Regions from separate parts of the Homo sapiens genome. Here regions 1, 2 and 4 are each reported to be linked to region 3. Evidence: microRNA targets listed by miRTarBase, many of them from high-throughput screens and not tested one by one. Region 3 holds a microRNA gene; each other region holds the end of a gene's coding sequence.
The links. Region 3 holds the annotated microRNA hsa-miR-6127 (UGAGGGAGUGGGUGGGAGG, at 5,215-5,233, opposite strand). A microRNA usually pairs through its seed, bases 2 to 8, with sites in the 3' UTR of a target mRNA and lowers its output. Matches are read on the target gene's strand: a 7mer-m8 pairs with bases 2 to 8, a 7mer-A1 pairs with bases 2 to 7 and ends in A, and an 8mer does both.

Region 1: miRTarBase lists ZNF134 as a target of hsa-miR-6127. Seed matches in the 3' UTR shown: 7mer-m8 at 3,541-3,547.
Region 2: the mRNA of DUSP14 is a reported target of hsa-miR-6127. Seed matches in the 3' UTR shown: 7mer-m8 at 1,937-1,943 and 8mer at 1,977-1,984.
Region 4: the mRNA of TPCN2 is a reported target of hsa-miR-6127. The part of its 3' UTR that is shown has no 7-base or 8-base seed match.

Annotation. Positions count from the first base shown.
Region 1 is chr19:57,618,712-57,626,139 of GRCh38, reverse strand. It overlaps ZNF134 (zinc finger protein 134), which reads right to left. Exons shown (of 3, transcript NM_003435.5): 2 at 6,632-6,728; 3 at 1,416-5,980. The coding sequence starts at 6,671. The coding sequence ends at 4,737. Among named protein-coding and RNA genes, the nearest start is that of ZNF134, 8.2 kb to the right of the region's middle.
Region 2 is chr17:37,510,993-37,518,420 of GRCh38, forward strand. It overlaps DUSP14 (dual specificity phosphatase 14), which reads left to right. Exons shown (of 3, transcript NM_007026.4): 3 at 1,189-2,506. The coding sequence starts at 1,281. The coding sequence ends at 1,877. It overlaps SYNRG (synergin gamma), which reads right to left. Exons shown (of 22, transcript NM_007247.6): 22 at 3,815-7,428. Among named protein-coding and RNA genes, the nearest start is that of DUSP14, 25 kb to the left of the region's middle. RefSeq lists a silencer at 1,516-1,906 and an enhancer at 1,665-2,178.
Region 3 is chr1:22,628,114-22,635,541 of GRCh38, forward strand. MIR6127 (microRNA 6127) reads right to left here and starts at 5,253; the gene lies at 5,145-5,253.
Region 4 is chr11:69,086,323-69,093,750 of GRCh38, forward strand. TPCN2 (two pore segment channel 2) reads left to right here. Exons shown (of 25, transcript NM_139075.4): 23 at 201-282; 24 at 790-884; 25 at 1,553-4,275. The coding sequence ends at 1,631. Among named protein-coding and RNA genes, the nearest start is that of MIR3164, 6.9 kb to the left of the region's middle. RefSeq lists an enhancer at 1-264 and a silencer at 2,431-2,570.

The sequences.
Region 1 (7,428 bases), not on the chromosome of region 3:
ACTGTGGTAGCCATGATGGTCTCCATCTCTTGACCTCGTGATCTGCCCGCCTCAGCCTCCCAAAGTGCTGAGATTACAGGCATGAGCCACCGTGCCTGGCCTAAATAACGTAATGTTAAGTTAAATCTGAACTGTGCTCCCATAGTACCTCTGTACCAGAAAACCTTGAGCCTTTTTGAAAACTTGAAGTTTGTAAGAGGCTTAGTGTTAAGCCTAATCTTAGGATTTGCAGACTCCTAGTCTTTTTCCCCAATTAATACACTCTTTGTTAATCTCACAAGTTAATTTGGCATGCTTGTATATGGCTTAAATTTATTTCATACATTTTGATATTAAGTAATTTCATTTCTTTCCTTTTCATTAGTCTCTTATTGTGCTTCATCAACCTAATTGTTTGTTGTTCTAATAGTATTTTTTTCAATTTTTACAGTGCTATATAATTTACTGTTTTAAACAAATCTATGCATATGTGGCATATTATCCTCTCTGAATTGCTTACTCTGTAATTTAGACTGAGATCACTATTGTTAATTTTCCCAGGAACAATTTTATTCATTTTCAAATATACTAGGAACTCCATTGCTAATCTCTGTGGTAATTGCTCAATTGTCTTCCACAGCTCTTTAAACCAATCCCAAAAGGCCAGGCACAGTGGCTCATGCCTGTAATCCTGGCACTTTGGGAGGTCAAGGCAGCCGGATCACCTGAGGTCAGAAGTTCAAGACCAGCCTGACCAACATGGAGAAACCCTGTCTCTACTAAAAATACAAAATGAGCCAGGCGTGGTGGTGCATGCCTGTAATCCCAGCTACTCAGGAGGCTGAGGCAGAAGAATCGCTTGAACCCAGGAGGCAGAGGTTGCAGTGAGCTGAGATAGTGCCATGGCACTCCAGCCTGGGCAACAAGAGTGAAACCCCATCTCAAAAACAAAATCCCATTTATGATTATGAAATTCAAAATGATCAAGGCTATTAACATGTTATCCCACACACCAGAACTGTTGTCGAGTTTTCAGTTCACCAATAGGTATTTCCCCTCAAAAATTTGATGCCTTTTACTATTTTATGATTTTTTTTGAGACAGTCTCGCTTTATTGCCCAGGCTAGAGTGCAGTGGCGCAATCTTGGCTCACTGCCACCTCTGTCTCCTGGGTTCAAGCGATTCTCCTGCCTTAGCCTCCTGAGCAGCTGGGACTACAGGTGTGCGCCTCCACACTGAGCTAAAGTCTCCAATTTCATCTAAATTGTCTAAGTCCAATATGGATGAGGCTCTAGGTATAATCCCATCTTGGGGCACAATTCTTCTCTGTGTTGCTGGGGGGTTCGGGGGGGTCTCTGGACATTGTTGGTGAGATCCCAGCCCCAGCAGCATCCAGGTTCTTAACACCATTGAAAGAATTCAGTGACGAGTCACAGTGAAGCAAAGGCAAGCAGCTTTTATTGTGAAGCAAAAGTACACACAAGAGAGAAGTGTGGGAGTGCCCCTGAGAGCAAGTCATGCAAAACAAAGTTTGGGTTTCTAATTGTATGGGTGTTCCTTTAATAGGGGTAATCATTAGGTATTCTGGGAAAAGAGGGGATTTCAGGGACCCCTGATTACCACCCCTCCTCCCTTATTTGGGTTTGCCTGGAAGAGTTACAGACATGTCACCCTGACTGGGGTTCTGGCAGTTTTCTCTTTTGTTTTGGGTTTTCTGTTATCCCACGGTTTCTTTGCCTAGTTCCCGTTTTAGCTGTTGTTTGGGTTTTTCTTTTTTTTTTTCAGCTGCACCAAAACCAGGGTGTTGAGATTTTCCATCCTCCTGTGACCACCCAGTGCTATTCCTGTCTCATTTGGATCTGTAAAACTAGAAAACTAGTTATCTGCTCCCAAACAAAAGGTTGGGAAAGACCTAGGATAATAGTTATATGTATATGCATTGTTTCAAAAGGGGAGGAAATGGAAGGGGGGAAAACAAAAAAAATGGAACCACCAATCCCAAGAAAATCTGAAATCTAGTTTGGCAAATGCCACTGGGAGTCAAGACATGGGAATATCACATGGTTCAGGACTCTGCCCACTGGACTCTCCTCTGCTCTGAGTCATCCTTCCTTTCTCATGAAAGGTAGCAAGGGCTTGCACCTGTTTCCGCAGCCAGTCCCATGTATAGAATATTACAACCTTTAACTTCACACTTTACATGCCTACACCCTTTAACTTCATACTTTCAAGGTCCCTTTAGACCCAAGGTGAGCATTTCCACTGGTATAAAATTTTCAAGAATTTTGTGAGTCTCCTGTACATCACTGAAATTCACAACATTAGAAAAGAGGTTTATGCAGATTATTCCTCCTAGGGAATCCCCTATCTATATTTTTGGCTTTTGCTGAGATGAGTGATAGTTTAAACTTCTTATAAATTGTTTGTATTGAGGGGATCTACAAGTCACATTTAATCTCTTCAAAGAGCTTTTTGTGTGACAGTGTTCTGATGTATGTTTTGATCCCGGTATCAGCAAACATCCTTGGCTATCTCTCTAAAACATCTCTCTCTCTAAAACATCTATCTTTCCTAACAATGAATCTCTTAATTTCAATGGTTTGTTTTTTTTTTCCAATTAAGATGGGCTGAGAATTTCCCAAATCATCAAATCTTAGGTCTTTTCTGTTTCACAGTTCTTCCCTGTATGTATCTCTTTTCCAATATATTTTACTATAATTAGTAAGATATATGGTCACACCTTCAAAACCTCTGCTTAAAAATGTTCTCAGCTAAGTGTCCACATAAAGACTCATGCATCAATATTTGCAGCAGCTTTTTAATATTTAAAAATGGGGGTGGAGTACAGACATCAATTAAGATAAATGGATAAACTGTGGTATATCCATACAGAATATGACTCAGTAATTTTAAAATGGACTGTTCATACATACCATGGACAAATTTCAAATTATGTTGCATGAAAGACAGCATGCAAAATTAACACTTTATAGGCAGACTTACATAAAATTCTAGAAAAGACAAATTTACCTACAGTGAAAACTACTCAGTGGTTGCCTAGGGATTCTGGGGGAAGGCGAGCACTGAGAGAAAGGTTAAGGGCCTCAGGTTAACTTTGGGGGTAACAGATATGTCCAATACCACTGATAGGGTGATAGTTTCAAGTGTGTGTGTGTGTGTGTGTGTGTGTGTGTGTGTGTGTATCAAGACTTAACTCGTACACTTTAAATATGTGCAATATATTGCATGTTGATTACACCTCAGTGAACCTATAAAAAGTTATCCCATTTAAAAATCTGGATCTCCCACTTCTATTGGAAACTGGACAACTGGACATCACTAAGAGTGACTCTACCTCACTATGGTGACTCTTATCACTCCAAATATCTTGGGAAGACAATCTCTTCCTCAGTAGTAAGAAAAACTGGCAAACAATGAGGACCATTGCCAAAAGAGTCACCAGAAACTCCAGCTGGTCACAAAAGCTACTTCCTTGGACCACACCTCTTTACTCCCAGGGTTACCGCCTGTGCCGCAAAGACATTAGGTAAAGAGCCCAGGGAGGGAGAGGAATCTAGAAAAACTACATTCGTTGCTGCACCAGTGACCTTGACCTAACAGTAACATGGCCCTGGAGATCCTGAGATTTCTGGATACCCTGATCCCATTCAGCCTTAGTGCCTGGACTGTCTGTGGATGTGTTTTTACAATGGGCACTTCCCCTCTAGTTTGCCACAATCTCCCCAATCCCAATTACTCACACTCAATATTTATCAATTTTGTTTCCCTACTGGATGCTTTAGATCTTACCAACAGTGGCCTGTGAAACAGATTCAGGCCTTCAGGGAATATGGCCACTCAGCAGGTCCTGAGGAACAGCTTTCCCTCAACAGTGTTGGGGAACATGGGACACATGCTGCAAACAAGACACCCAATCCATGCTGTTTCAAAACACTGCAGGCTGTCACAGCAGCAGCACCCTCCTCAAGGTGAAATATGGGCTCTCAAATAACTCTAAAATCCAGACAAATCAGGTCTACACAAGATCTTAATTCTTACTTAACAAGCTTTGTCAGCTATGGAAGTTAACATCAAAACTGGACTAAGAACTGTTCTCCCTCAACCCACTGTCCCATTTGAGGCAAAGTTGGAGGCACCGCACAAAGGCTGTCTTCAGTTTGGCAGAGCCTGTTTTCAATCCACCCCAGACCATAAGAAGAAGCCCCAAGATTAAATGTGGCTTAAACTGTAAAGCCTTTATTATCACAAACCAGAGCAACATGAGGCAAGTACTTTCCCAGGCCAGGTGACTTGGAGGCTGGAAAAACTTGATTACAAGTATGTGAGACCAAGAATATCCATGAAGAAAGTAAACTTTTTGTATAAGCCACCAGCAGATACAGCTCAGACCCTCTTGGCTAAAAATGGGTCATATCCATACCTATACCTGTCATACAGAAGGGAATGAGGACCCCCAATGAACTCAGGCATTTCATGATTTTCTCCAGGGACTGGACAATACAAAACCCTGCCTTCCCCAATGCTGGGGTATCTTAGCTGGTAGAGTTAAGATGGTTTCGGCCACATGGATTGACAGTGACATAACTCTGGCAAAAAACCTGAGCAAGTCAGAAAGTGCAACATATCCCTAGAAGGTTCCCACGTACCTGGCACCATAAGGTATCTCCTTTGTGTCAATGTTCAGATACATGAAATTCAACATCTGATTGATGAGTCCTGTTGTATTCAAAGCACTCCTAAAGCCTGCCTGCAGTGTGAACTTTCTGGTGCCGATTGAGGTGGGAGCTTAAGCTGTAGGCCTTCCCACATTCACTGCACTCATATGGCCTTTCTCCAGTGTGAACTCTTTGGTGTCGAACAAGGTGGGAGGTTCTGATAAAGTCTTTCCCACATTTACTGCACACAAAAGGCCTTTCACCAGTGTGAACCCTCTGGTGTGCAATATAGTCAGAACTTCGACTAAAGAATTTCCCGCATTCAATGCACTCAAACGGCTTTGACTCAGTGTGAATTCGCTGATGTTTAATGAGGGTGTATTTGTGGCCAAAGGATTTCCCACAATCACTGCAATCATAAGGATTTTCTCCAGTGTGAATACTCTCATGCTGAACAAGTGTAGATTTGTGTCTGAAGACTTTCCCACAATCACTGCACTTATAAGGCCTTGCTCCATTGTGAACTCTCTGGTGTACAATTAGATTGGAGTGATGGCTAAAATATTTCCCACATTCATTGCACTTATAAGGCATTTCTCCAGTGTGGATTCTCTTGTGCTGAGTAAGGTTGTCTTTTCGACTGAAGGTTTTTCCACATTCGCTGCATTCATAAGGCCTTTCTCCAGTATGGATTCTCTGATGCTGGACAAGTGTAGCTTTGCGGCTGAAGGCTTTCCCACATTCGCTGCACTCATAAGGCTTCTCTCCACTATGAATTCTCTGGTGCTGGACAAGTGTGTCTTTGCGGCTGAAAGCTTTCCCACATTCACTGCACTTGTAATGCATTTGTTCACCATGAAATGCATCCCCACTCTCAGTGCTCCTGTGTGTCTTCCTCTTACTGTGGATGGCCTTTTGTTGGCAGCCACCCAAAGTAGCCTGGAAGTTTTTCTGCTCCTCCTTACACGTAAAGGGCTTCTCTGACGGATGAGGTTCTTTGCTAACTGTGCAGTTCTTCACAATTGAGGCCTCACTTTTATCCCTTCTTAAGGGTTGCTCTATACTGTAACACTTCTGGTACTGATGAAGGTTTGCACTGAACCAGAATTGTCTCCCACATGCCCCACATGTGTGAAGTTTCAGTCCATGGTGTGTACCCTGGTGTTCATCCAGGTGCAAAATATCTTTCAAGATGGGGCCACATATGTCACAAGGGAGAGCCGTCTGTGCGGGCAAACCTGCCTTGGAAGTATTAACATGTGACACTGCTATAGAAATGCTCTGTTCAGAAGATGACTCTTCATCCTTCACTTCATGCCAACAACCTGAAGGCAGAAAAATACTATTGATGTACATGCTGACTTTGGTGGGTGGGGCAACTACATCACAAATATGTGTCTGCTGTACCCAGGACTGAGTACCTAAGTTTCCTGGTGGAACAGAGCTAGGATCAGGTTGAAAAAAGGGCTGCTGTACAGTACTGGAATCTAAGAGTCACAGAATGGAGATGGCCTCACAAGAAACAAAGACACGAGGATGGGGTGTAGTACAAGGTCTCCAACTTAATCCTCTGCAATGACTTTTAGCAGGACCTTGGCTGACTGTGGGTGACAGGTGACTCCTATGCGAAATGTGAGTACAGGCCCAGGAAAATGTGATTAAAAATAAGTAACGTGTTCAGGGACTATTTACAGATATGCACACATCTTATGACACAATAGTGTAAGTGTAGTACAATATTGGAAAGCATCGCAGAGAGAGCTATTGCTCTACTAGAGCCCCTCTGGTAGAGAATGGGAGAAGACAGCCCTGGGTCAGAAGTCAGATTAGAAATGACAAGAGTGTACAGAATGGGGATAAAAAGGTAGAAATAAGTTAGGGCCTCTGGCCTTGGCACTTGTGATGGGCACAACATAGGTTTCCGGAACTACAGGAACCCAGCCCTGAGGTTATGGCGTCCCTCAGCTCCCACTCACCAGGGCCTGTCCAAGCCCCTCCTGCTGTGACTAGAGTCATGCCCTCTCAGGCAGCCAGAGTTCTCTCTCTTGTTACAATTCAACAACCACAGAGGATCTGGAAGATACAAAGCATAGGGGAAAGGTGAAACAGGCTGAGAGCACTAGCCAGAGTAGCCCACCCATGCAAAATTGCAAGAAAACAAATGCTACAAAATGAACCTCAGAAAATTGTCCTGCAGGAACAGTGCAGTGGGCCCACAAGTGGTGACCATGATGACTGAAATTGAGGACACAGGCAGACTCAAGGAAATTACAATTAGAGGAAGCGGGTGGAGCCTGGAGTCCAGAGGTGTCATGAGTGTGGACAGTCACCTGGCCAGGGAGAGGCCAAGCAGAATTCACTGGGTCACCTTAGGACCCCTGACCTCCAAACCCTTCCTGGCAAGGCTTCAGGGCAGCAGGAGTTGAGGAACACAGGGAAGAGAGGGGCCAATGCATCTAGCTGAGCCTAGGCACCCAGGGGACCTATGTGAGGGAATCAGAGAAGAGAGCAGTACCCATGCTCTAGCTATGGAAAGGAAAGAGCAACCCCTAGGGCAAAAAGGAAGAGTAGGACCCAGCCCAGAAAAATGGGATACTGGGGCCTTACCCAGGGAGACTATAAATGCGAAGCACAGAAGCCATTATTTCATAATAGAAGAGTCTCTGAGCCTCATCCAGCAGCTCCCATTCCTCCTAAGAGAAGTAAACAAATAAATCCTTGAAGGTCACATAGCCCTGTGTGAGGTGGACAACTGAGCTTAAGGACAGCCTCT
Region 2 (7,428 bases), not on the chromosome of region 3:
ATATAATATATATCAATATATATGTAAATGTATATATTGACATTTAATAGCAAACACTGGAATAATGAGAGGATAGTGACGTTCAGACGTTAAAAGCCAGTGGGCTTCATCGTGGAGCTCAGAATTAAGGTGAAGTTATTTAGCCACACCCAAGGTCAGGTCAGGTAAAATGCTCATTTAACTTACAGGAATGAACTTTGAAGACCATGGCCTTCAAATTGCCTGGGATTATTTCCATGGAAATGCTACTGTGTTTACATTGTCACGAAATGATAGGAAATAGTTTTTGGTTTGGGTTTTTGTTTTTGTTTTGAGACAGAGTCTGTCACCCAGGCTGGAGTATAGTGGCACGATCTCAGCTAGTTGCAACCTCCGCCTCCCAGGTTCAAGCGTGTCTCTTGCCTCAGCCTCCCGAGTAGCTGGGATTACAGGTGCTCGCCACCATGCTCAGCTAATTTTTGTATTTTTAGTAGAGACAGGGTTTCCCAATGTTGGCCAGGCTGGTCTCGAACTCCTGACCTCAGGTGATCCACCCGCCTCAGCCTCCCAAAGTACTGGGATTACAGGCATGAGCTACCTCACCTGGCCTTTCCTTTTTTTTTTTTTTTTTTAGAAGCTGGGTCTCCCTGTTGCCCAGGTTGCAGTGTGGTGGTGGTGCAATCACAGCTCACTGCAGCCTCGACCTCCCAGGCTCAAGTGATCTGCCCACCTCAGTCTCCTGAGTAGCTGGGACTACAGGCATGCACTACCACACCCAGCTAATTAAAAAAAAATAAAAAATAAAAAATAAAAAGTTTTTTTGTAGAGATGGGGTCTCACTGTGTTGCCCAGGCTGGTCTTCTGGTCTTGAACTCCTGGGCTTAAGCAATCCTCCCACCTCAGCCTCCCAAAGTGCTGGGATTACATGTATGAGCCACCATGCCCAGCCACCCCCCCCCCACCCCACTTTTTTTTTTTTTTTTTTGGACAATCACCAGAGAGCTGAATTTTACATTGATTTCACATGTTTGTGTCTTAGGTGACTTTTCCCAACTGTTAATTGATAGAAAATGATTTGTCTGTATCCTTGAAAGATTGTACTGTATTATTTAAAAAAAAACCCTCTAATCTTCCCATTTGACAAATGTGACAGAAGGCTGTGATGAATCAGTAGCATTTAAAGTACTGACACATACCTGTATTTTGCAGGAAGGAGACTCTAATTTTGGATTCCTTGGTGGAGGAAAATAAAACACTCTGGTCTTGCCGCCAACGATGCAAGTGTGACTGCTGGCGTCTTCATGAGCTCCAGAGGTCACAGCACGCTACCAAGGACTCTCATGGCCCCTCGGATGATTTCCGAGGGAGACATAGGAGGCATTGCTCAAATCACCTCCTCTCTATTCCTGGGCAGAGGCAGTGTGGCCTCCAATCGGCACCTCCTCCAGGCTCGTGGCATCACCTGCATTGTTAATGCTACCATTGAGATCCCTAATTTCAACTGGCCCCAATTTGAGTATGTTAAAGTGCCTCTGGCTGACATGCCGCATGCCCCCATTGGACTGTACTTTGACACCGTGGCTGACAAGATCCACAGTGTGAGCAGGAAGCACGGGGCCACCTTGGTGCACTGTGCTGCAGGGGTGAGCCGCTCAGCCACGCTGTGTATCGCGTACCTGATGAAATTCCACAACGTGTGCCTGCTGGAGGCGTACAACTGGGTGAAAGCCCGGCGACCTGTCATCAGGCCCAACGTAGGCTTCTGGAGGCAACTGATAGACTACGAGCGCCAGCTCTTTGGGAAGTCGACAGTTAAAATGGTACAGACACCTTATGGCATAGTTCCCGACGTCTATGAGAAGGAGTCCCGACACCTGATGCCTTACTGGGGGATTTAGTGCCACTGAAGCCTGCGTCAGCAGCCCGAGCGGGGCCGGCATCTGCTCCCCGCCGTCTGCTCCCTCTCCACTCTCTTCTCAAATGGCTGACTTCTGGTTCTCCCTCAAGTGTTTTTTACACTGGGTGTTCAAATTTATTTTAAGAGATAGGGAGGGAGGGGACATAAAGGGAATGCATACATTGCTAGTCACATTTTTAAAATTAACATTTTGGAATAGTGTTTATGGAAATCTTTAGCTTTTAATCATTTTTACCAATTTGAACAGTTTAATAAACTGGTTCTGCTCTCTTCTGAATCTCATGCCTTTGGCACCTTGGTAGGTGCAGGAGGAGCTCAGTGCAAAAATCACTTTGGGGCCTCATTAACCCTTTAGAGACAAGCTTTGCCCCAGGCTGCGGACCAGACAGATGCTTAGGGAAGGTTGATAACCAGCTTCAGTCTCTACTGGATTAGCCCTACTCTTTCCTTTCCCCTCCATTATTTAGTGACTCTGTAAGTAAGTTAAATACACCCTTATTATTTAGCTGTTAAGTAACTATAATGAAATCTGCTGCAAAATCTCTCTTGGAATCCATGTGCCCAGGATTATATTAGCATTATTTTTAATAAATCTATATGCTTAACATATTAGAATTTTTACTAATAATTTCAAGGTGTGTGTGTGTCGATGATGGGAAAAAGGTGCTCTCCAGTAACTAACTAACTAACTGCTGAAATGTGGCTCCTGTGCCAGTTGGGAACATTACTTAAAATACACATCCCAGCAGAGTCTTGTCGGCGCGTCACATCCTGGTGGACAGGCAGACACACCGTCCCCGGTGCTGGGCCGGTGGGAGATGATTGATAGTGCACGCTCTGATCAGGGGTGCTGGTTTTGGTTTCCTCTTGGTTAGTGGAGCGCCCCGAAGCAGCGTGTCCTCCATCAGAGAAACTGGTTTTCAATAAAAGGTGCCTCTGCTTGACTATTATTACCACATACGAAAATGCCCTAAACCAAACCTCAGTATGAGCGATAAGCAAGTAACAAAAACAAACAATGGCTGCCTTTGTTTAACTTTGGGACTGTCTGTCACCCAGTTCACTGCTCCTGATAAAACGGGCAGCACCGCTCATCATCATCAGATACATGGTAGAAGGTGAATGAGCTCGCCCCTGTCCCACTCCTGGGACACTCCTGGGCACTTTCCACGTGCCCCCAAGTAACCACTGTCCTAGGGCATGCCTTTCTTCTGCATGGAGGGCATCCTGGGCGTCTGCCCGTGCAATGGGAACCCGCTGCGGCACTGCTCTTTGGCTTCATTTATCAGGAAGGTTGTAGCTTGCTCACCAGAGGAATAGTTTTCTAGATTTTTTGGGTCAGTTTTGGCAGGAAGCCATACATAGGCCAGTAGCTACATATTTAGACAAATATACTCCACATTTTACCTGGTTTGTGGCAATGGTTTTTTCCCATCTAAATTCTACCTTTTATTGCTTTATACCCGTGGCTGCCCACTGTTATAAACATGCATCATTATTCTCTAGAAAAACTAAAATGAAAAAAATTATTAATAGTTTCTATGGGAAATCAGAGGAAACAACAAATGCTATAAGATCAAAAAAAAAAAAAAAAAAAAAAAATCCAGGGAGGCTCTGGCTGCTTTAGTAGGAGGCTCAGCTTTGAGTCTGGGAGTTTCTGAATAAGAGCACCCAAATAACCATTGTCCTAGGGCGAGAAGACACCTGGTGACAGATGTTCTTGGTAATTAATGAAAATTACCTGTAGAATTCCTGGCAAGCAGCACTACGGGGCTGTAACTAAGAGTTCCTCGCACGTGGGAAGCTGAACACCTTTGTAATCTTAAGCGCATGGGCCCCTGTTCATCCTAGTGACTTGCATCTATGTGAAATCAACCCAACAAAGACAAGACCAAGAAAAGGCTTAGTAGCCTGACATTCTTCTACACTTGTATTTTGGTTAGAGAAGTTTAACAAGGGGTGATTTCAGAACAGACCCTGAAAATATTTTAAAGGTAAAGCTTTATAATGTCTAAACACATCAATTAGAGCAGTTGTTTATTAAAATACAAACAAGGGAGAAACCACACCATCTTTTAAAATACAGGCGCGAATTCCACATCACGCAGAAGACAACGCATTTCGCTAAGGGCCACAGCATTCACTGGTTAATAAAGCCACAGCTACAAAGTAATGAGATGTCCCACATGAATACTTTTTAACCACTTACATTCACGTCAACATATAAATAATGGAATTAAGTAAAAACTTCATTATAATGCTATTTTGTTAGAAAAGTATTTGTAAAGTGGCATTTTTCCCCCAAGAGCTGTTTCACTTAAGCTTTATTTCCTCGGCCTGGCAAGGGGAGGGCTTTTCAGTATTGTTATTTGGTACACACTTACCTGAAGAAATAAGTAAGTAACTTAAACATAAAAAACATAGTCGACACACATCTTGCCCTGCATTCTGACATTTGCTGGAATGGTCTACAGCAGGCTACAATGCTCCCTTCTGAATGGCAAATGTCTGAAAATGTCAGTTTATTAACTGTTCACAAAGGCAGGCATTTGACCTTGAAGGTGTTAAAGGGAATTTTTTATTTTTGAGACAGAGTTTCGCTCTTGTTGCCCAGGCTGGAGTGCAGTGGCGCGATCTCGGCTCACTGCAACCTCCGCCTCTCTGGTTCAAGCAATTCTCCTGCCTCAGCCTCCCGAGTAGCTCGGATTACAGGCACCTGCCACCATGCCCAGCTAATTTTTGTATTTTTAGTAGAGACAGGGTCTCGCCATGTTGGCCAGGCTGGTCTTGAACTCCTGACCTCGGGTGATCCACCCGGCTCGGCCTCCCAAAGTGCTGGGGATTACAGGCGTGAGCCACCACGCCCGGCTAAAGGGAATTTTTGTAGTGGTCCCCAGTACAGGGCCAGCATTTCCTATTTCTGTAACATACAGCCCTATAATCTTTGCAAAGCTGAAGTACACTTGAAATAGGCAAACAGAAGACACCTTTAAACAAATAAGACCCCCCCAAAACCCTTCAAATATGTATATGTACACAAAATATTCAAATAATTAAAAATTCACAACCCCTATGGAATGCTAACTAGTAGCCACAGGAAAAATAAAGCATGGAAAATATCCTCATATATCCAGTACCTCTTCTATCTCAAGCATGTCCAGACAAAAATTAAATTACACACTAAGCCATAAAAATTTTAAAGGCAAAACATCCCACCAAAAAAAGAAAAGTGCTTATTAATGGCCATTCAAGCAGTGGGGTGAAGCGGGCTGACACAATGCACAGTATGGAAATAAGTAACCTTGGCTACAGTTTCCAAGGACACGGGGCTCCTGGCTGACAAGAAGAGCTGAGGTGAAGCTGAATGCAGCGTTGAGCCATTTTAATAAACGTTTATAAAGAAAAGCAGCGCAACCGTGTCCCACACTCCTTGGATCCCTATTGGTGGCATCTAATTAAACATTTCAAGTATTCAAGAGATATGAAAGGTAGTGAATACTTTTCATAGCAAAGGCTTTTTTTCTGTTGACATCTGCTGAATTTTCCTGTGGCACCTCCCAAGGAGTGACTAAGCCTACCATCCTTGGTAAGGAAAATGGGGATTATACTAAGGAATTTTATCTGAGGCATTCTGGAATTTCTCAGGAATAGAAACCAGCCCAGCTACCAAGTGAGCTTTTTAAAATGTTGATACTGGGCCACTGTGACATGACAGGCATCTATATAGCATTTCAAAAAAATGCTTCAGCAATACAAATTCAAACTGGGAAACTTTTTTTTTTTTTTTTTTAAGAGACAGTGTCTCGCTCTGTCATCACCTACGCTGTCACGTGCAGCCTCAAACTCCTGGACTTGTGATCTCCCGCCTCAGCTTACCTAGTAGCTGGGACCACGAATGTCCACAGATGCACTCCACCTACCCGGCTAATTATTTTTTGTATAATTAGCTGGGGTCTTTACCATCATGCCCAGGGCTGGTCTCTAACTCCTGGGAAACATTCTTATTGCAAAGGTAGATTCTGCTGTCATGGTTCTGTTATGAAATTTAGGCCAGGCGCAGTGGCTCACGCCTGTAATCCCGGTACTTTGGGAGGCTGAGGCGGGCGGATCGCCTGAGGTCCGGAGTTCAAGCCTGGCCAACATGGAGAAACCTTGCCTCTACTAAAAATACAAAATTAGCTGGGCGTGGTGGTGCACGCCTGTAATCCCAGCTACTCACGAGGCTGAGGCAGGAGAATCGCTTGAACCCGGGAGGCGGAGGTTGCACTGAGCTGAGATTGTGCCATTGCACTCAAGCCTGGGCAACAAGAGTGAAACTCCATCTCAAAAAAAAACAAAGAATTTTTAAGGCCAATTAGCAGCCTGCTTGCATTCCAGCTCCATGTGGAAGTGGTGCTGTCCAGGATGGAAGCGCCGAGGCCTCAGGAAAAGCCTGCCAAAAGCTGTCCCACTTGTGTTGTTAGAAACACCCCACTAGCCTTGTGGTGGGCAAAAGCTCCAAAGGTGCCCATTCAGAGTGAGCTGCCTCAGTCAGGAATGGCCAGAGACGGTATCATCGGGAGCGAGTGAGAAAAGCCTTTCTCTCCTCGGTGCCTCTCTGTGCATTCGGGCACGCAGAAGGTCAAGCAGAAGCCTCAGCAACAGCTGTTTAATGAAAATGTTCCACACCTTTCTTGGAGAACATGGAAAAGCTGTAAGATGGAGCAAGACAGAATTTGTCCTGAGAGGGGAAAATAAATTATGTAAAAGCAGCAATTATATAGACAAGACCAACTTTTTCAGTTTAAAAATAAAAGTCTAGGTCAGAGGGTCTAAACCACACAAAGTAAAGCACACGAGATTGAAAAATCTCTTCATAAAGCGCATAATCAACAATTCAGAGAGACGTGTGCCCTAGATTGGTAGTTCTTCCCAGGAATAACACAGCTCTTAGCCACTTGGGTTTTTCCCCTAATTTTATGCATTCACATTAAATGGCAAAGACAATTCCCTACTCCAGGAAGCATGAGCCTTTTCTATCTAAAATTCAGTACTGTTTCTGGACAATTTTCTTCTACTTCTTCTAAGTCATGTATCTATCCCATAAATATACATCTTGATACTTTACACTAGGCCGAGAGCTCCACATTTTCACCCTGAATTAATTTTCAGGTTTTTCTCACAGATACTGCAAAGTCAGGCAGTGTTGGTCCCTATGCAGTCATCTTTGGAAATTTGGAGAGAGGCCACTGCAAAGAGATTTCATTCCACTGCCTTTCCAAATCTTGTCTGAGAAAACTCCATGGTCACAGTCTTTGCATGCGGCAGAACAGGTTTGCAGCGAAGGCTCCCGGGGGGAAGGATATTATCCTAATACACAGGATTTGGGCCTCTGTCAAAATGAGCATTCTTCACGGCTGCAGAGTGCCCAGGCATGTTTTGGGAAAAAGTCTTGAGAGTGGACAGAAGTGAAGGGAAGGAGTAGAGAACTGGTTCAGTTGTGACAACCAAGTGGGTAAAATCTGCCCTCACCTGCCTGCTACTGTCCAGGG
Region 3 (7,428 bases):
TGTAAGGATCTCATGTCGATTACGTGAGATGATGTTAAATGCCTGGCACGAGGGAAGTAAATGTGTGAAGCTGGCAGATCTCGCCCTCGGAGTCCCCATACTCAACACGTTCATCTCCTCTGTACTCCTCCCCACCCCTTTCAGGGTTGCTGTTTCAGACCCCAATCTGCAGGACGGATGCCAACGGCACACTCTCAGGAAGGTAACCCAATGTGGTAGAAATAACTATTCCAGGCCAGGCGCGATGGCTCACGCCTGTAATTCCAGCTCTTTGGGAGGCCAAGGCGGGCGGATCAAGAGATCAAGAGATGGAGACCATCCTGGCCAACGTGGTGAAACCCTGTCCCTACTGAAAAAAACAAAAATTAGCCTGGCATGGTGGCGCGCACCTGTAGTCCCAGCTACTCGGGAGGCTGAGGTAAAAGAATTGCTTAAACCTGGGAGGCAGAGCTTGCAATGAGCTGAGATCGTGCCACTGCACTCCAGTCTGGTGACAGAGCAAGACTTCATCTAAAAAAAAAAAAATAGCCAGGTGTCGTGGTGTAAGCCTGTAATCCCAGCTGCTTGGGAGGCTGAAGCACCAGAATCACTTGATCCCAGAAGGCAGAGGTTGCAGTGAGCCGAGACCACGCCACTGCACTCCAGCCTGGGCCACAGAGAGAGACTCCGTGCCCAAATATAAATAAATAAATAAATAAATAACTATTCAATTTACCGGCTGTGTGACCTTGTGTGAGTCACTTACCCTCTCTGAACCTCAGTTACCTCATCTGTAAAAGGGACTGTCACCATGCCACCTCCCCGGGGATTCTGATGATGAAGTGAGGTCGTGTATTAAGCACCCAGTAGGAAGTCCAGCATTCAGTAGGGCTCACAAGGAAGAGCCTATTAGCATCTTGCAAACATACCACGGTGAAGCATCAACCTCAAAACACCCCAGAGAGGACAAGGCTTACCCTGTGGAAAGAATGACTACAGGAGGAATTTCAGGTCCTGTGATGGGCAGATGAGGGAGATCATTTGCACTCCAGGCTCTCCCTGGCCACTCTCTTGTGACCCTCATGCCTATGTGAGCTCCTTGGAAGCTAGCATCTCCCAGCAACCTGGACGTCAGGCCCAGCCCTCTCAAGGTGGAGGTAATACCTCCTTGTTGGCTCCCACAGCCCGATCTGTTTGTTTTCCAAACTCTTAGTCCTCTTAATCTTTTTACATCTTACCTGCCTGGTGGCTTCCGGCTATATTTGCCTGTGGGGAATGTCTCCAGAGCAGCTCCACCCAGTTCCCCTCCGGGCTGGGCTGCCTCCCTCACAGGCATTCAGGGTGTTGGCTTCCAGCTGGGGGGCTTTATTTCTTCCTATTTTTCTTCACTCTCCCCTGCCAATAAATCTTTTCTGTCTTCTTTTTTTTTTTTTTTTTTTTTTTCCAAATTTTCTTTCATGCACCGGCCCTCTGAGTGCCAGGTGAGAGTAGGAGGAGGTAAAACATTGTGCTAAGAGCCTACTGTGTGCCAGAGACCAGCCGCACTACTGTCTGGAAGCCTGGCATAGTTTGAGGTCATCATTCCCAGTTTATAGGTGAGGTGCTAGAGCCCCAGACACAGGAGGTTACTCGTGCAAGATCACACAGCCAAAGAGAGACACACACTGAATTTGAACACATGCTGCCTCCATCTCCGCAACAAATGATCTGTTGTTTACAATCCCCTCTGCGTTTCATAAAATAATCCCAAGAAGTGCTTTTATCTGCCAAGAAAAGTAAAGAATAAAGAGTGTGCACAGACAACACATGGCAGTTCTCTCACACAACAGCTCCCTCCCCAATTCCAAATGCCTCCCCCAACCACTTGCTAACAAAACCCTGATCTTATTGGGTGGTGGGGACAAAGAATGGAAGGATAGACCCCAAAAGGCCCAGAAGGAGGGTTTTGCAAGAAAGGCGAGACTAAGACAATCTCCATAATAAAGAACAGAGAGCAGGAGAGTCAGGGAGAAGGAGGAACAGTGGCTCTGGGCAGAGGGGCCGGGAGATTTTTTTTTTTGCTGGAGACAGGAAGTTGAAGACAGAGGTCTGGAGGAGTGGATGGAAAAGAGCAAAGAGCACTGGTGTCAACTCTATGCCTCCTTCCTGGTGTTCAAATGTACAGCAGAGAATTGAGTGTATCTGTTCACAGGGCTGGGTGGGGCAGAGGACTTGCACCAGAATGTTCTTAGCAGCTTTATTCATCATAGCCCAAACTCTGTACCAACAGAAGGGACAAACAAAGTGTGATACTGCATATGCATACGATGGAATAGCACTCAGCAATACCACGCAAACTGACACACGTAACACAGATGCATCTCACCGGCATGCTCTTCAAAAGAAGCCAGACACAAAAGAGCACAGGCCGCATGATTCCATTGACATGAAGTTCAAGAACAGGCAGAAGGCACCAATGGTGAGGGAGAGCAGAACACCGGTTACTTTGCGGGTGGAGGGGAGCACTGTTGACTTGGAGGGTCACGGCCGCCTCGCTGGGGAGATGGATACTCTGCACTCTGATCTGAGTGGTGGTAGAGGGCCTGTGCGTGCAGGTGTAAGCTACTGAGCAGTGTGCTTGAGATGTGCACATTTTACTCTGTGCAAATTATGCCTCATTTTTTTTAAAAGAAATATACAAGCACCTTAGAGTCGCATTATATACACACTTGCCTATCTCCACTTCGCCTAATAGGACTCAGAGAGAGAATCACAATTTAAGTAAGGCAGGGGATATTGGTTTTTTTTTTTTTTGAGACGGAGTTTCACTCTTGTCGCCCAAGCTGAAGTGCAATGGCCTGATCTTGGTTCACTGCAACCTCCACCTCCTGGGTTCAAGCAATTCTCCTGCCTCAGCCTCCCGAGTAGCAGGGATTACAGGCATGTGCCACTAGGCCAACTAATTTTATACTTTTAGTAGAGACAGAGTTTATCCATGTTTGTCAGGCTGGACTCAAACTCCCGGCCTCAGTTGATCCACCCTCCTCGACCTCCCAAAGTGCTGGGATTACAGGCGTGAGCCACTGCTCCCAGCCAGGGGATACTGTCTTCTAAGAGCCTATTTCTGGAGGGACCGTGGCTGGGAGAGTTCTGCTGTCCCCAAGTCTGCCTCCGCTCCTGTGAACCCCTCATGATCTAAACACCTCACCTCCAAGGGTGGCTCCAGTCTCCAAAGATTCAATTCCTTTGTGTGTGAGTGGTGGGGGAATTGGTTAACCTTAACCAACTGGTACTCAACTGAAGAAAAAGAAATCTGTTCTACTATTGGAGCCAAAACTGACAGCAAAAGACTATTGTGAAACGGTAATACAGTCTTTCACGTGGCGCTGTTTGAAGAATTTTTCCACCATTTACAATGGTGATACTCACCATTTACAATGTTTGCCTCGTATGCCGATTTTGCAACACAACCCTTGAATGGGATGTGACTGCCATAAAGAATTCAAGTCATTTAAAAATTATTTTTTGGTTATTTATTTGACCTTTGATCCCACTCTGAGACTGAACCTCATGGATCATAACTGTGCAAGCATGGCTAGGAATTTCCTCTCTTCCCCACATCTCCTGCCTCCCGTCTAGGAGTCTGGGCTCTGGAGAAATGGAAGAATATGCCCTTCCTCTCCGCCTGAAGGTGTCCCTGTTGTGACATGCACAGGGCCATTGCTGACCCTTTTATTTCTCACACTAATGATATGCGCATTAGTATCGATGTCTTTTATTTCTTGGGAAGTGTTTATACTCTTGCAACAGCCTGATAAGTAAAATCATCCAACACTTGGAAATAAGGCAAATAGATAACCGGTGTCCTTTCAAAGTCAAATGAGAGCTGTATCTAACAAACCCTGCTAAGGGTCATCTGACACTCTAGGGGAATGTCACTTGGCTTGACTTATTATTTACTATTGATTAGAGCCCAGATTCAGTAAAGATAGCTGTTAACTGGTAGAAAACTGTTAAGTTGCAAATTATTTTTGTCTAGTAGAGATGCAAATGATTTCTTTTCAATAGAGAAGATAGCCCCAACATGATGATTTTATTGCCCTATAGAACACTAACCAGTTTTGTATCTAATTTAGCAATTTTATGAATATTCCAGAATTCTTGTTGTTTTAACTGACTCTCTCTGTCTCCATATATAGGTATACATATATATTTTTTTCCATATCCATTGAACTAGCTTTGTCACCCAGCTGGTTCCTCCATTAACAACCTACAAGAGGACACTGACACATTCCCACACTGTATTTCTATAGGAACTGGGTATTCAATATTTTGAAAACTAGACTTTGAGAAGCTTTTCACAGTATCTGATTTTTCCTCTTGCCAACTCTTGCCCCTGTCTGTGTGACCCGGGCAAGTCTTTTTTTGTCTCTGGTCCTTTGTGTCTTCAGAGTAAAATAGGGCACGCAGGGCTGGCGTTTCTGCCTCGGGCATGTCATGTTTCTAACTCCTCTGGCAGGCAAGCAGGGCTGACGCAATGCAGTCAAAGAAGATGGATACTGGGCCGGGCGCGGTGGCTCACACCTGTAATCCTAGCACTTTGGGAGGCCGAGATGGGCAGATCACCTGAGGTCAGGGGTTTGAGACCAGCCTGGGCAACATGGCAAAACCCCGTCCCTACTAAAAATACAAAAATTAGCCGGGCGTGGTGGTGCACACACGCCTGTAATCCCAGCTACTTGGAAGGCTGAGGCAGGAGAATCTCTTGAACCCAGGAGGCAGAGGTTGCAGTGAGCTGAGATCGAGCCACTGCACTCCAGCCTGGGCAACAAAGTGAGACTGTCTCAAAAAAAAAAAAAAAAAAAGAAGAAGAAGAAGAAGAAGAAGATGGATACTGGGCTGGGCGCGGTGGCTCACGCCTGTAATCCCAGCACTTTGGGAGGCCGAGATGGACAGATCACCTGAGGTCAGGAGTTTGAGACCAGCCTGGGCAACATGGCAAAACCCCGTCTCTACTAAAAATACAAAAATTAGCTGGGCATGGTGGTGCATGCGTGCCTGTAATCCCAGCTACTTGGAAGGCTGAGGCAGGAGAATCTCTTGAACCCAGGAGGCAGAGGTTGCAGTGAGCTGAGATCCAGCCACTACACTCCCACCTGGGCAAAAAAATGAGACTCTGTCTCAAAAGAAGAAGAAGGAGGAGGAGGAGGAGGAGACTGGAAGGGATGTTAGAGGCCATTTGGGGCAGCCTTCCCACCTCCCACCCACTCCCTCATCTTGGTAGATGGAGAAAGTGGGGTTCAGAAAGATGAGATAACTTGCCCAGGGTCACACTGTGAGTTAGGTATGGGCTGAGCAGATGAGATTCCAGCTCCACGAACTTTCTGAATCCAGGGAGCATGGGAGGGGCTGTCAGGGGGAGCTCTGGGCCCCCACCCTTCAAGCCAGTATCCCCATTTTTATCTGTTTGACATACATCAGATGCCACACAAGATTGCAAATGAAAAAGAAGTCCCCAAAGCTCAAAAACCCTGGCTCTAGACCATCCTTCATCTGCCCACTTCAACAGCCTTCCCTTATCTCCTCCCTCCTCCTCCTCTTTTCCTCCTCCTGCCTCTGGCAAAATTTTCAGAAAACAAACAAACAAACAAAAACATGCTCATGAGAAGAAGCAGACAGATGTGGTCAGCCCAGGCCTGAACACATTGGTCTCCAGTCTGGGAGAGACAGAGCCTCTCTATCTAAAGAAAAGCATTCTCAGGGTCCAAGCTGACAATGATGCAGTGTGCCGTGCTGACAGGTAATGAGCATCCCATCAGTTAAGGTGAGTAAGGCTAGATGATCTGTTCAAACACTAGCAGCAATTGTCTCTAGATGGTAGAATTCACAGGCTTTTGTTGCTGGGTTTTGTTTTTTGTTTTTTTTTGAGATGGTGTTACAGGATCTTTGGGGTGTCATTTTCTGGCCGGAAACCTCTGTGGCTGGTGGCACCTTTGCCCAAGTTTTGCTCAGGCCCACTGGGCTTGTTTCACTCACTCCTCCTGGCAGGCAGCACTCAGCTCACATTACCAGCCTGGGTTCCACATCTGCCCAGGGCAAGTCAGGCATGGAACAGTGAAGGGTGTGTGAGTGAACATGGGGTCTGGCCACTGCACACAGTCAGACATGCCGGCTGCTGCAGCGGGGTGAGCAGCTCCAGGTGCCAGCATGGGCGCCAGCTCTCTGAGAGGTTGTGGCTAGACCAAGTACACCACAAGCAGCTTCCACAGCTGGCACCGGGGAACACGGTGGCACCCAGAAGCTTCGAGATGCCAGGAACCACAGGGCCCCGAAAAGGGAGTCACAGCTCCAGCTTGGGGAGCTCCCAGGTCTGGGTTCCCCAGAGGGCCGCAGCTCTTCTTTCCTTCCCTTCACCTGCATCATGGCAAGCAAGGGGCATGTTTCAGCCTTGTTTGTGTTACAGCTCTTTCAGCCCCACCATTTGATGGGTCCCAAGTTCTTATCCTGCAACCAGGAAGAATGAGGTATGCAGACAAGTGGGGAGTGAGCAAGACGAAGAGGAGCTTTACTGAGCGATAGAACAGCTCAGCCTCCTGCAGAGCCTCCCTCAGGGGGCAGCTCCTTTCCACAGCCAGGGTGTCCTGATGAGTGTTCAGCTGCTAGCAGAGAGGAGACCCTGGAATGGGAAGCTCCTCTCTGCAGGCAGGTCATCCTGTCGACTTTCCAGCTCTCAGAAGAGGGAAGACCCTGGAATGGGAAGCTCCTTTCTGCAGGCAAGTTGTTCTGCCATCTCTGCAGCTCTCAGCAGAGAGGAGGCCCTGGAGCGGGTAGCTCCTCTCGGCAGCTGGTCATCCAATGTCTGCCCAGCTCTGGCTGAGCCTGAAGCTTTCATGAGCCTCAGAGAGGAGGAAGTGCATACTGATTGGTCCATGGGTGGCTATAGGCAAGCCCAGAAAATACACCATAAGTTCCCACTCTGGTGTGTGGGACTGGCAGCCTGGCCCCCAGCCTTGAGGCCCTCCCTGGCTTGAAGGTAGGGCCTCACCAGGGACCCATCCCCTTCCACCCAGGAGCCTGTCTGTCTCCTGCTGCTGTTCATGGTGCCCAGGCTGTTCATGCCAAGGAGCGTCTGCAGGCCAGTGCCGAGCTGCCCTCAGTTTCCCCTTGGCTTTCCTTCCATGCTAGTCAGTGCCCAAAGTCCAGAGGGGGCCAAGGCAGCAGGGGTCTAGTGTGTCAGCACTGCCCCAAGCATGCCCACACCCAGCCAGGCTGCGACAGCACCCAGGCTCAGCACCAACTTTGCTCTAAGATCAGAGTGGGCGCCAAGAGGAGGGAGAAGCCAGGCAGTGGGAGCAGACACTTCTGAGCCTGAAGGGTGGGGCGGGGGGCCTTCCCGGGCCCCCAAGATTGCAGGGATGCCTGGGTCCACAGCTGCAGTTTAGGCAGCTGCAGCTGCATGGGGGATGGCGG
Region 4 (7,428 bases), not on the chromosome of region 3:
TTAGCTACCTCGGCAGCTTGTTGCACGTTTCTAGGCCTCAGTTGGGTTGTTTCTGAGATGGAAATAGTAACGCGCTCTGCATCATGGTGTGTGTGGGCCGGCTGCCCGAGAGCTGTCCTGGCCACGCAGCAGTGGTGTTTGTATCGAGTGCTCTTGCTTTGCTCATCGTGGTTCACAGGGTGGGTCTCTGTCCTCCGCAGGTGGTCCAAGATCTATTTTGTATTGTGGTGGCTGGTGTCGTCTGTCATCTGGGTCAACCTGTTTCTGGCCCTGATTCTGGAGGTATCAGAGATCCCCACCCAGGCTGTTCTCCATGGTCGTTTGTTTCTAATTCACTCTCGATGGGCCTGAGGCCACCGGCCGGGCCTGCCTGGAACTTTGATGGGAGAGTCGTGCTGGGTTAGGCGGGTCCTGAGTGAGGCTGAGCCCCTCCCGTGGGGCTCAGTGCTGCCCGCCCTGGCTGCTGGGGCCTTGGGGAGTGCTCCTGACATCTGGGCTGCTGGGGCCTTGGGGGGTGCTCCTGACATCTGGGCTGCTGGGGCCTTGGGGGGTGCTCCTGACATCTGGGCTGTGGGGATTCTCAGGCCCCCAGGTCGGGCTGAAGGAGGGACTTGGACATTGGCTCCAGGAGGAGCCAGCAGCCTCGTGGGGCCTGTGCCTGGGTGTCCAGGGTGAATGGCTCAGCCCCCTCAGCGGGTGCCCTGTGGCTGACCCTGGAGGGGCCGGGGATGGGGCAAGGCTGCTTTCATTCGGGGCCCACACTCACTGGCCACTCCTCCTGCTTGCCAGAACTTCCTTCACAAGTGGGACCCCCGCAGCCACCTGCAGCCCCTTGCTGGGACCCCAGAGGCCACCTACCAGATGACTGTGGAGCTCCTGTTCAGGTGTGTGGGTGGGGAAGGCGCTTCTGTCTGGCCCCCTGGGATGGGAAGCCAAGAGCTGGGGGGTGGAGGGGTTGAGGCGGCGGGCAGGCCCTGATGACTGTCCTCCCCCTCCGCCCGGTTATCTGGCTTTGGTCCTGTGCTCTAGGAGAGCAGCTCAGAGCCGGGATCGGGGCGGCTTCTTCTTCCTGCCACTGGCGTCATAGCCTTTGTCCTGCTCTCCTGCTCTTGGATTGGGCATATTTAAGGCACCATCCTTCAGGGTCCATTGGATCCTGTTGGATGTAAACAAGGGACCTGAGGAAAACGCACCCATCTCTTCTCCTGGCAGCTTTGAGATGGTTCCTCTGCTAGTCCAGAAAAGTGACCACCCAGAGGCAGCCCTGCTGTGGGGCCTCTGTGCCTTCCACCAGGGGCTGCCGAGTTGCTGCAGCCAAGCCCTGCGGTCCTGCCAGCCAGTGGGAAGACGTGGCCCCTGGGCTTTTAAGAATGCCGTGTAGATATTTCTAGTGGCTACATCCATCCTGAGGCTCATCTGAGTCCCCGTGTCTCTGTGTCCCTGTGACACTCACTTCGCATGTGTTGCTAAGCTCTGCTCCCTTGTTCTTGTGGGCAGGCCAGGGTCTCCCTCCTTTAGAGGCCCCTGTGTGCATCTTTCCTCAATTCCACAGGGATATTCTGGAGGAGCCCGGGGAGGATGAGCTCACAGAGAGGCTGAGCCAGCACCCGCACCTGTGGCTGTGCAGGTGACGTCCGGGCTGCCGTCCCAGCAGGGGCGGCAGGAGAGAGAGGCTGGCCTACACAGGTGCCCGTCATGGAAGAGGCGGCCATGCTGTGGCCAGCCAGGCAGGAAGAGACCTTTCCTCTGACGGACCACTAAGCTGGGGACAGGAACCAAGTCCTTTGCGTGTGGCCCAACAACCATCTACAGAACAGCTGCTGGTGCTTCAGGGAGGCGCCGTGCCCTCCGCTTTCTTTTATAGCTGCTTCAGTGAGAATTCCCTCGTCGACTCCACAGGGACCTTTCAGACAAAAATGCAAGAAGCAGCGGCCTCCCCTGTCCCCTGCAGCTTCCGTGGTGCCTTTGCTGCCGGCAGCCCTTGGGGACCACAGGCCTGACCAGGGCCTGCACAGGTTAACCGTCAGACTTCCGGGGCATTCAGGTGGGGATGCTGGTGGTTTGACATGGAGAGAACCTTGACTGTGTTTTATTATTTCATGGCTTGTATGAGTGTGACTGGGTGTGTTTCTTTAGGGTTCTGATTGCCAGTTATTTTCATCAATAAGTCTTGCAAAGAATGGGATTGTCATTCTTCACTTCAGCACAGTTCTAGTCCTGCTTCTCTGGAGTAGGGTTGTTGAGTAAGGTTGCTTGGGTTGTGCATTGCACAAGGGCACATGGCTGTGAGGTGTATCCTGGCGGGGGGCTGTCTACCTGCAGTGAGGGGCACCTTTTCTGTTTTGCTCAAAGGCATGTATAAGCCAATGGGTGACCTTATTTCCTGTGTCTTCAGGTGTGTGGCAGGGGGCCTGGGGTGGGGAGGTGGGGCGAGCGAGCAGTGTGTGGAAAGCCTTGTTGTCACCTGAAGCACGCCAGGTCCAGATTGACCAATGGTTTTCTCACTTCAGGGGCCAACCCACGCCCCCTTTCTGCTGAGGTTTGGGTGCCATCTAGTGGTGGGATGGGACTTGGTTGACTACATTTAAGGTAAGGTGGACCCAGCAACTCCCAGAAACAACTCCGGGGACACCACTCCCCATCACACTCCACACCGAGCCTGGTGCCCGGTCTGTGCCCGAGCTCAGCGGGACCAGGAAGGGATGGGCCCTGCCAGGGTTGCCCCTGCACTGTGCATTCTCGCCTGGGAGGCACAAGTTCTTTCATCTGCTTTTCCTTCAGAGGTGCTGAGCCCACGCCATAGCCCCTGTGGGATGGTGGGGGAGGGGGCGACCCGAACAACAGTGCAGTCGGTATCGAGATTGGGGAGAGGAGCGAGTCCAAGGAGAAGGTCATGAGTTTCTTTTTACTCGTGTTGAATAATAACAATAACAATAACAATAACAATATGGAAACCACCGCAAACTTGGAGAAAAGTTGTAAGCACAGTAAAGAGAAGCTTCCTTCTGAGTCACTTGAGTGGTTGCCGTTCTGGCCCTGCACCCTCTGTGCTTTGGGACGGCGTCCAACCCGCATTCATGTCAGGAGTGAGTCGCACGTGGCTTTGTGGTCATGGCGACTTAATCCGCCTGGACGGTGGCTCCGTCTCCCTGGGCTTAGACGACCTTGGCACTTCTGGAGATAAGCCCATGGCTCCCAGGTTGTGTTCATGTGACGTTTCCTTGTGGTAGGTTCTGGGTCTGCGTTTCGTCTAGGAGTGTCACAGGATGGACACTGCCTCCTGGCAGGGGCTGCCCAATGCAGTTAGCCTCCTGCTGGTGTTCTCTCTTGTTGCTTGGTGAAGGTGGCCCTGGTCAGCTTCTCCACTGCCCAGTGAACGACCCCTTTGTAATGAATGAGTGGGGAGGTAGTGTGAAGCGATGCCAATATCCCATCCCTGTCAAACTGCCTTTACTTTTTCCTTCCTTCCTTGCTCCCACCTGTGTGGATCCTGGTCCCTTCTTGTATTCAGGGCTGTGGTCTGTTATGACATTTACTCTCAGGCTCAGGTCCTGCTTGTTTGGCCCGTGGGAGCCCCTTCTTCTGCCTTTTGTGTTTTTTTTGTTATGTACCTACAGTTCTTTAGCTGTTTCTTTACTTTCTGGTGCAAAAAGATGTTCAAGCCTTATTTTATACTTGCCTGCCCCTTTCTCTTTCATTTATTGGAGTGAGCTGCAGCTCTAAGAAGACCTGTTCTTTTGAATGGAGAGTAGCATCAGGAACCAGGATGTGGGTGCGAGGCGTGCTCCTGGCTGTTGCAGATTGCTGCACCCGGGAGCTCTTAGTGGACAGAGCTAGAGGATATGTGCACGTACTTCCATCTCTCTCTCTGTCTCATCTATTCACAGCTGGGAATGATACTAATACCTCCGATTTTAGCCCAGCACCACAGGGTACGTTCCAGTTTTTCTCTCTTTCCATAGCTGTAAGGCCCTTTCTGGGAATGGTTCTCATTCTCCTTAATCTATTATTGGGTCAGTTTTCCTGCATGTCCCCAGCCTCCCATCACTGCCACCCACTCCCCACAGAGATGCCCTGCTCATCCGACTGGGGCTTTGACTCCCACACTGTGTACCCCTCTTGTGTGGACGCCCTGCTGCCAAAACCTTCAGCAAACAGCTTTCCAAATGGAAGTTGTCACTGTCAGGGCCTTTACAATCAGCAACAGCAAAATCTACATGCTGCTGAGGGTCCTGCCTCATTAAGATGCAATAAATATGTAAGTACATAAAAACAGCAATAGAAGAAACGTAATGCTTTATTCTCAAATATGATGTCTACATAGAAAAGCCAAAATTATTAAGAATAGTAAGAATTCACCCAGCACTTTGGGAGGCCGAGGCGGGTGGATCATGAGGTCAGGAGATCGAGACCATCCTGGCTAACAAGGTGAAACCCCGTCTCTACTAAAAATACAAAAAATTAGCCGGGCGCAGTGGCGGGCGCCTGTAGTCCCAGCTACTGGGGAGGCTGAGGCAGGAGAATGGCGTGAACCCGGGAAGCGGAGCTTGCAGTGAGCCGAGATTGCGCCACTGCAGTCCGCAGTCCAGCCTGGGCGACAGAGCGAGACTCCGTCTCAAAAAAAAAAAAAAAAAAAAAAAAGAATTCAGCACAGTTGTTTGCTATGAGATTTAAAAAGTTTTTACTTTATTACTTATTCATTTATTTATTTTAGGGTCTTGCTCTGTTACCCAGGCTGGAGTGCAGTGGTGTGATCATGGCTCACTGCAGCCTCCAACTTGTGGGCTCAAGCAGTCCTCCTACCTTGGCCTCCTGAGTAGCTGTAACTACAGGCACATGCCACCAGGTCTGGCTAATTGTTTTATTTCTTGTAGAGATGGAGTATCTCTATGTTGCCCAGGCTATTCTTGAATTCCTAGGCTCAAGTGATCCTCCCACCTTGGCCTCCCAAAGTGCTGAGATTACAGGTGTGAGTCACTGCACCTGGCCTGCCCTGAGATTATATACTGAAATCAATTGCTTTTCTAGACACTAGCAATAAGCTTATAAATTATATTCAAGGATTCAGTTATATTCATTTTTTAAAAGATATTTAAATAAGATTAAAAATTCTTAAAGTTTCTAAAAATAAATGGAAGGAAAGATATTCAAGGCCTATATACAGAAAACTATAAAACTTCATTAAAGCCCATGACTGTAGATACAAGTAAATTGAGACTATGTAGTTTTCTGTTGCTGTGTAACAAGTCCCCACATACTTGGTAGCTTATCACAACCTCATTTCTTAGCTCCAAGCTGCAGGTCAGACATCCAGGCACGGCTTGGTAGGTCCTCCGTTCAGCAGAAATTGGGGTGTCAGTGGGCTGGGTTCCTTCTGGGAGCTCCGGGGAAGAGTCTGCTCCCATACTCACTTGGGTTGTTGGCCAAATGCAGTTGCTTGCAGGTGTTGGGCTGATGTCCGTTTCCTGCTGGCTGTCAGCCAGGGGCTGCTCTTAGGGACTAGAGGCCACCCACATTCCTTGCCATAGGGTCCCCTCCATCTTCAAAGTCAGCAACAAAGAAGCTGCCTCACATTGACTCCCACTCACCCTTTGAATCTCTAGGAAAAGCCTGTGTGGTTTACAGTTTCACCTGATTAGGTCAGACCCACCAGGACAACTGCCCATCCTTAAAAGTCCTGTGTGCCACCTAACATATCCCAATTCCGGGAGTGACTTATTCACGGGAGGAGATTATGTAAGGGTAAGGATCACTGGGGTCATCTTGGAATTCTGGCCACCACAGTTTTTCTATCTTCATGGTCAAAAAGAATTGATATTGTAAAAATGTCAGCCTTCTCCAATTTCATCCATACATTCATTATAATTCTAAACATAATGCCATTTTTTTCCCACAAAATTTGATAAGTTGATTGAAAAATTAACATGAAAGTACAAAAACAAGAGCAAAAATCCTTTCTGTGGGAGAATCCAGTTGAGGGAATTGCTGCTCCATTATTCCTGACTTACATTGCTGGGACAGCAGCCACAGCAGTGTGGTCCTGGTGCAGGAGCTAATCGGCTAAGGGGAGAGAGCCCGGGAGCCCCGCACACCGGCGCAAGGGCGAATCTACTAAGGGGAGAGAGCCCGGGAGCCCCGCACACCGGCGCAAGGGGCGGATCGGCTAAGGGGAGAGAGCCCGGGAGCCCTGCACAAATGCGGAACTGCGACGGATGGCAGCAAACCCGCAGGGAAGGGATTGTTATTTAATAAATGCTGCCAGAAATTCCAGCCCAGGTGGGAAAAGAAAGAAATAAGTTCCCTGTTTCACACCTAACACAAAAGTACATACCGACTGGAGGCGGGCTTAAGTGTGAAAAGCAAGTTTTAGAACGTTTAGAAGATGAACTCAATATATTTAAATTAAGAACTTCTTTCTTTAAAAAAGGCCATAAAATAGGCAAGCCACACACTGGGAGAAGATTTTGGTAACTGAGAACAACTAAGAACTTATATCCAGACCACATAAAGAGTACCTACAAATTAGGAAGAAAAAGACAAAGCAGTAGAAAGTTGGGCTTTTCACAGAAAAGCAAACACCCGGGTTCCATAGCTATGTCAAAAGTTGCTCCGTCTTACTAGTTATTAGGAATATGCAAAATGAAACTGAAACACAACATTTCACTCACTCCATGGTCAAAATGGAAGAGGTTGGACCATCTTAATTGTTAGTACTTACATGTTTATTCTGAAGAGTCAAGCTAAGCTGAAACAACCTCTTTGGAAAATTGTTTGGTGTCATTTCTTGCAATTGAATAGGACATACCTTGGTAATTCTCTGCTAGATACACTCACAAGAGAAACTGCTGCCCGTGTGCACTGGAAGACGGTCGGCAGAGTGATCCTAAGAGCAGTATCAGTACTAGCAACACATCTGCCAGCTGAAACGTCCTCAACAGAATGACAGGTACGCTGCAGCTTGGTGACAGTGGAGTATTACACGGCCGTGAACATGAATGAACTCCAGCTGCAAAGAGCTACCTGGAAGAATCTTAGAAACATAATGTTGGGTGAACAAGTTCCAGAAGTCTCCACACGGCACGGTATTATTCATGTAAAATTCAAAAGCAAGGTTAAACAACATACCATGTAGGCACGCATACATCAGTGATGAGGTTACTTCAACACAAGACAGCCTGAAGCCTGTGGTCCAGTCAGTGCTGAGATTACTTCAACACAAGACTCCCAGAAGCCTATGGTCTGGTCAGTGCTGAGATTACTTCAACACAAGACGCCCAGAAGCCTATGGTCCGGTCAGTGCTGAGATTACTTCAACACAAGACGGCCAGAAGCTTATGGTCTGGTTAGTGCTGAGATTACTTCAACACAAGATGGCCAGAAGCCTATGGTCCAGGGAGCGGCCACCTCTTGGGGAAATGGGGATGGGAT